2 linked regions of the Homo sapiens genome follow. The protein of the gene in region 2 purifies or fractionates together with the protein of the main gene of each other region. This does not show direct contact. Each region holds a gene or a part of one and is shown on either strand. Other genes may lie near its edges.

Region 1 (3,652 bases), on a different chromosome or scaffold from region 2:
AAAAAATTTTGGTCTCTGCCTTCCTTTATTGCTTAGACATTCCCACTGATTCCCTCTGATGAAGAATTAAGACAAATAATGGAAGAAAAAGGAATTGTAATGGAAATTATCAGACTGGGAGTGAGTCGACCTGGGGCACTCCTCCCCCTCTTGCTCTCCTCTGACACCTCCATCCCTGCCATTCTGACCTGGCTAACTCCTAAGCATCCTTTAAGTTTCAATGTATATGTTATGACATATCCTTATAGAGCCTTTCCTATCACACAGCCCCAACCAAGCACACTTTACTTCCCTCTTCTTAAGGTTCAACATATTTATAATCCACTTCTTTAAAACCTTTCTTTCCCCCATGGGTCTGTAAACTCTTTGAGGGCAGGGACTGGGTCTATTTTGCTTACTATCGTAGCTCCAGTGCCTAGCATGTGGTAAGTCCTAAATACTGTTGAATTAATCAATTAAGCAGGAAACGAAAAGCCAGGTTCACCAAACATTATTACTGTCCTGTTCTGAGTCTGTAGATATCCCGAAGTCTTAGCAACCTAAGTCTAAGAAATACCTTTAGGAATATGATCGATCACTTGGTATGGCAAAGACCAAGGTTTGCCTATCCAATATCTAGTCTCCATGTTATAAGTGAAGGCAATGTCCTTTACAGATAGGGGTATCCGATAAGTGGGTGGGGTTTCCAGGAAAGCCCTTTAGGGTACAGGGGGTGGATTCTACCAGGAAATATGTCCTTTGGCCTTGTCCTTCTTCCTGCTTGGAGCACAGATGTGACAGCTAGAACAGCAGCGATCACTCAGCAGCCCTAAGGCAAACCTGATGGTGGAAGCCAGCACTAAAGATGATGACACCAAAAGAAAGAGGGAGCTTAGGTCTCTGGTGATCACAGAACTGCCATGCCAGCTCTCAGTTACCTAGCTTCAGACTTCTTTCATGTAAGGAAAAAAAAAAAAACCCAAAAACTCTATCTTTAAGTTCCTGGTTTTTTTGTGTTTGTTTGTTTGATGATCTGTTACAATTGAACCTAATCCTAACTGAAATACCCAAGTTTGCTAAAGTGAGTTTCGAGAATGATCTTTAAGCTCGGCGCAGTGGCTCACACCTGTAATCCCAGCCCTTGGGAGTCCAAGGCAGGAGGATCGCTTGAGGTCAGGAGTTTGAGATCAGCCTGGCCAAGATGGCAAAACCCCATCTGTACTAAAAATACAAAAATTATCCGGGTGTGGTGGTGGGCGCCTGTAGCCCCAGCTACTCCAGAGACTGAGGCAGGAGAACGGCTTGAACCCAGGAGGCGGAGGTTGCAGTGAGCTGAGATCGCCCCACTGCACTCCAGCTTGGGCGACAAAGCAAGACTCTGTCTCAATTAAAAAAAAAAAAAAAAAAAAAGATCTTTGAGGTTTGAGGTTTAGAAACAAACCTTCCACAGGTCCTTTGCCTCGTCTGCACTTTCCACTTTGTGTTCTGCTTCTTTCCTGTGAAGGTTCCAAACACACAAGAGCATATGTCCATCTACTGCATTTCCATCCATTGCACAGGTTGTTCCTCTGTGTCTCTGACATTGTCTACTTTGCCTGGCATTCCAGGTGTAAACGGTTAACTAGGGACTCACACATATTAATATATTACCACTGTAGGTACACAGACTCCTGATGTCTTCAAGGGTCTGTAAACTCAGAATCAATCCTCCATAGAATTCTAGCATATTTTAGAGTTATAAAAGAACTCAACACAAATATGCTCAAGTTTGTGTCCTTAACAGTTATCAGATGTTGAATATTTACTTTGTCTGAAGTCTAAAAGATACACAATTTCGTTTCTTTCAGATGATTATGCTGTTTTTATTTCTTACCCTATCTGAGCAGCAGGTTTATTGATTGATTGATTGAGATGCAGTCTCACTCTGTCACCCATGCTGGAGTGCAATGGCACGAGCTCGGCTCACTGCAACCTCTGCCTCCTGGGTTCAAGTGAATTCTCCTGCCTCAGCCTCCCGAGTAGCTGGGATTACAGGCACGCACCACCACGCCCGGCTAATTTTTGTATTTTTAGTAGAGATGGGGTTTCACCATGTTGGCCGGGCTGGTCTTGAACTGCTGACCTCAAGTGATCCACCTGCCTCAGACTCCCAAAGTGCTGGGATTACAGGTGTGAGCCACCACACCCAGCATGAGCAGTAGGTATTTTTGATAAAAGTTTTTCTGTTTGTTTGTGGTTTTTTTTTTTTTTCTGAGACAAGGTCTTGTGCTGTTGCCCAGCCTGGAGTGCAGTGGTGCAATTAAGGTTCACTGTAGTCTCAACCTCCCAGGCTCAAGTGGTCCTCCCACCTCAGCCACCCAAGTAGCTGATACTACAGGTGTGAGCCACTACGCCCAGCTAATTTTCATTCTTTTTTGGGTTTTTTTTTTTTGGTAGAGATGGGGTTTTGCCATGTTGCCCAGGTTGGTCTTGAACTCCTGAGCTCAAGCGATCTGCGCCTCAGCCTCCCAAAGTGCTGAGATTACAGGTGTGAACCACTGTGCCCAGCCTTGAGTTTTTAAAATCTTTTTTATTTCCAACAAAGCACAAATATCTCACTTTCTTTTCTCACAAAGAACTATGCTATATTCTCAGATAGGTCACATAACTTTAATTTGCCTGGCCACTTTGAACTCCCTAAAGCTCAAAGTGCTTTTAGCATCTCACCATTTGTCATTTTAGCAAACACTACATAAGTCAATCCACCCTTTATCCAACCCCAAGCCAAGAAGAAATTTGCTGTTTCATCTGTGTCTCAAGTTGCATGGAATGTTTTCTGGTTGGAAGACTAGTCTGATGCTCATCTTGCTATTCAAAACAAACCCCCTTTCACTACCCTGAGTCACACATGCTACAGTATGAATCATTTCAGTCAGGCATATTCAAAAAGTTGGTAAGTAACAAATTTTAAGGTTTAAAATAGAACATACAACTGCATAAATGACAACATTATAATCACATATAACAATGAGATAAAGACTAAAAGGAAAGGAAAACAGTTACATTAGGCTGGGTGTGGTGGCTCACACTTGTAATCCCAGCACTTTGGGAGGCTGGGGTGGGCAGATCGTTTGAGGTCAGGAGTTCAAGACCAGCCTGGCCAATATGGGGAGACCCCGTCTCTACTGAAAATACAAAAATTAGCCAGACATGCTGGTGCACACCTATAATTCCAGCTACTCAGGAAGCTGAGGCAGGAGAATTGCTTGAACCGAGGAGACGGAGGCTGCAGTGAACTGAGATCACACCATGCACTCCAACCTGGGTGACAGAATGAGACTGTCTCAAAAAAAAAAAAAAAAAAAAAGAAAAGAAAAGAAAACAGTTACATTAAAGTAAAGAATTATAGGTGGAAATATTTTTTATATTACAAAGCTGCCCTAAAGACATATTTTTTAAAAGATATAAATCAACCAATCAAATTTATGAAAGGAAAGCCTAAATATTCAAAACCAAAGTATTGTTTAGAAATTTCAGGAAGAATTTTGTTTGTTTTTTCTGATGGATTATCTTAAAATTCTAGAATAAATTTTCAGGTTTTCCTTAAAGGACCATTTTGTGTGCACAACAGAAACATCAGCCAAAGCTGCCAAGTCCATTTGTAAGACCAATACGGTTGTTTTTTTTTTTTTGA
Region 2 (3,752 bases):
GATGAAGCCCTGACCTGTGAGTTTAGTGACAGGGAAGTCGTAGGTATCCTTGATGAGAATATATTTTGTGGAGTCATAGGGGCAAAAACATCAACCAAGGGATTCGGGAGAGAATAAGAGGAGAGATATTTGCAAGTTAGACAATTCTTACTAAAGCTTGGTTCAGAAATGAAGGAGAGAAATGGGACTCTAGCCCAAGGGGGTGGTGGCATCCAGAGAGATTTTTTATGGGATAAAAAATAGTAAGTTTGAACGCTGACAGGAAGGATCAAAGAGAGAGAAGAAATTGATGATGCAATAGGGATGGGAGAGTGTTAACAGCCAGTTCACCCATTGTACCAAGAATAAGGTCAGGGATACAGCTTGCATGCAGGTAGGTGAGCAGATAGAGTGAGGGAAGCTTGTGGACATTCTCTTTCAGTTACATTGATTTTCTCAATGAAACGGGAACCCAGGTCGTCAGTAAGAGTAAGCAAGTGGCAGGTGAAGAAGAAAGTATGACAGAGTCATCTAGGAGAGTTGGAGAATGAATGGAGCAAGGCGTGCAGCTTAGATGCTGGCTAGCAGTGACTGTTCTGAGCACTTTGTACTGGCTTTTCTACTAAAGCCTCACAACAGCCTATGAAGTAAGCCCTATTATTTGCCCCATCTACAGATAAGAATTGAAGCACAAAGTGGTCAAGAAACTTGTCCATAGTCCCACAGCAGGAAAGCCAGGATTTGACTACCAGTGATCTGTTTCCAGGGCCCAAATGCTTAAGCACTAGGTTAGGCTGACCCAGTTAAACATGAAAGCTTGTCACAGAACTGAACTAAATAGAATAGAATAAAGGTTGAATTAATGTGTGTGGTGCAACCACTCTGTGTCAAGCTCTGCACTAGATTCCTCTGCAAAAACCCTTTGAGTTGTGGTTATTATCAACCCCATTTTACTGATGAGGACATTAAGGTCTGGAAAGATTCAGTTGCTTGTTCAAAAGTTGAAGAGCTAGCAAATGGAAGCCCACACCATGTATACAGCCCACACACCCTGATTCTAAAGCCCACACCCTGTGTACAATGCCAAAGAACCCTTAGGATATGTGAGTGGGTCGACCTAGCTTAAGTTGCTTCATTAAGCCAAATACATCAAAACCCTCCCTACATCAGGCTGAGATCACTTGCAAACTTTATCCTGAGCACCTGGAGAGCTTGCGACATGGTCCTTACAGCAGGAAGAATTTAAAAGAAGATAACTTTGGGGGAATGCTTGTTGTTTTTCTGACCATTTTTGGATGCTTGATCCGTTAGGTGAGGAAGAGGAGAGCTTAGAGTTGAAGTAGATGATGGGAGTTTCGACATTTTCTTCTAATTAAAACTGTAATCTTTTATAACAGAAGCAACCATTCTGGTTTTTCAAGCATTTCCAAAAACCATTTTCTCAAGAAAGAGTGCTCATAATGTATCATCTTCACTGAACAGCCACCCACTTCCTCAAATGCAAGGAAGCAGACAGTTAAAAAAGAAACACACACACACACACACAAAACCAAGAGGCAGCAGTTGTTTATCACGACCTCAACTCAGTAAGGCCTGAGATTCTTTCGAAAAGGAGCTTTGCTTCCCATGACGCAGAGGGAAGTGTCAACTGGGATATTTCTGGTAAAACTGAAAGCAAGAAAAGCAGGGTGCTAGCCCCTGTGGGACTGAGGGTGGAGGCTGGGGGAGTTTGGGTGCCATCCTCCAGTGACAGATGGATGGACCTTTCATCTAAGAGAAAGGAGGAGACACGTTGGCAAATCAGCCTCAAGCCTAAGATTGCTTGTGAAGCAATCATAAGGAGGAACAAAAACAGACACAAAAACAGAGGGAAAGAGTGAAAAGACAAGAAGGGCGCAAACTGTGACAGACTCACCGCTTCACTAACTACTCACTTAAACTGGAAGCAAAATGTCCCTAAAATTGCCAAGGAACTGGGATTTCAACCTGAAAGTGGAGGCTGCGAAAATAGGTATGGTTGGTGTCTTTTCGTTGCCTCTGTGATTCTTACGTATACTCGAGCACCATTTGCATGTTGGTCTGCAGGGAGCATAGTCTACTTAAAAATGGATCTCGCAGCAAATCTGAGTTTGAGGGACCATTTGCATTTAAGTTGGCATGCCAGGTCCAAGTTCTAAAATGCTGGGAGGGGGTTCTCTTTCATTTGGACAAAACAGTGGGATGGCACTCCTTGGTGTGCAGGATCTGGGGTACTTCGGATGATTTAAGGCTACAGACTACACACAAAACTGTGAGTTTTTAGCATATTCCATTTCCTTCCTGTTTGGAAACTCATCCATATTTTGAATGGTTCTGAACAGGAGCACAAAGACTAGAGTCTTTTGAAGTGCTCAATCTGTAAGTAAATTCAATGGGTGTTCTGTTTTGTGAGCCCAGGAGTCAAGGTGTATTAAAAGGTAGTAGCAAAAGGTAGACAACAAAAACAAGACAGGAACATAAAAACGTACTAAAGTATAATAAAGACCTTACTTAATAAAAATATAATTAAAGGAACAGAATGGGAGGGAATTCTTAGATGAGTTGGAAAAGAGATGTATTTTTTATTATTTTAAGGGAGACTGGCATATTTTCTGAGATAGTCTGGCCTTTAATCCATACCCTGTCCTTCTAATGATGATAGTGATACATTAAGTTTAATCTATATATTCGTTATGAAGTTCTTTACATAGATTTCTTCTATTGCTAAATTGGTCACAGTAATTCACATCAGAGCAATCGGGCTGAAAACTATTGCCTACATTTATGTATCTCACCCATACATGAGATAACTTCCTTGATATTAGATATAGATAAGTATTAAGGTGTTTCTAACAGCTTGGAGGAATTTTGCTTGGAAAAAGGTTTAGATTTGAACCTCTAATGGGGTTAAGTGTGCTACTAAAATAAGTGCTCCATTGAAAAGTCACAAGCGGAGCATTAATGATGTAGGTCTGAGAAAGGGTTTGAAAGAAAACAGAGTAATCAGAGAAGCCATTTATCTTGATAACTAGGGGAGATTAGCGTTCCCTAATCAAGCTGTGAATGATTGTATGCTGAGGTCAGTTCAGAGAAAAGGTAATGTTCATACCTCTTACAAAAGCAAGAGATTTTCCTCCTAACTATCATTGATACAAATGTACTTGGCTAATGCTCAATCTATGTCATACAAATTATATGGTTCTGTTCCTTTGAAAGTGTCCTGCTTCTACATAAATAAGGTCATTCTGCCTTCTCTCCACCTATGTTTGAACACAGGTTATTAGGGTCTTACTCTCCTTTGGTTTAAAAAACAAGAAAGTTGAGACAATTAATAGTTAAATGATTTTTTTCACAGATATAGGAAATTACCACACTAGAGCTCAAGACTGCATATACTCAGGTCTGGGATTTGATTGAGTGAATTTCATGATTTTTACCAATGTTTCTTAAAGCATGGTCCCATAGATAACCTATATCAGACTCACATCAAGTGCTGGCTAAAAATGCAGATTTCTGGGCACCATCCTTACAAAATCAGAATCTCTGGAGGAAGGCCCAGGATCCTGCATTTTGACAAGCACCCCCCACTTTCATCCTCACCTGAGGAAGAATTCCTGCTGTAGGTACTGTGGTCTATGTTCACTAGCCCCAGCAGACAGTTTTCACCCATTTAGTATAGGGCACAGTGCTTGTTCTTAACTGGGCACACAATAAATATTTGTTGGCTGAATGAATGCTTCAGCCAACAAAAACAA

What was found.
Region 1: the proteins of ARHGAP25 (region 2) and DSTYK purify together in Homo sapiens (affinity purification with mass spectrometry; 3 studies listed by BioGRID and IntAct, with this or other methods). This does not show direct contact.

Annotation. Positions count from the first base shown.
Region 1 is NC_000001.11:205,170,087-205,173,738, forward strand, and holds part of DSTYK (dual serine/threonine and tyrosine protein kinase), read right to left. Parts: intron 1,476-3,652; coding exon of another isoform or gene 1,421-1,475; intron 1-1,420. UniProt on the Homo sapiens protein: Acts as a positive regulator of ERK phosphorylation downstream of fibroblast growth factor-receptor activation. Involved in the regulation of both caspase-dependent apoptosis and caspase-independent cell death.
Region 2 is NC_000002.12:68,733,271-68,737,022, forward strand, and holds the start of ARHGAP25 (rho GTPase-activating protein 25), read left to right. Parts: upstream 1-1,540; 5' UTR 1,541-1,929; coding exon 1,930-1,990; intron 1,991-2,106; exon of another isoform or gene 2,107-2,269; intron 2,270-3,752. UniProt on the Homo sapiens protein: GTPase activator for the Rho-type GTPases by converting them to an inactive GDP-bound state.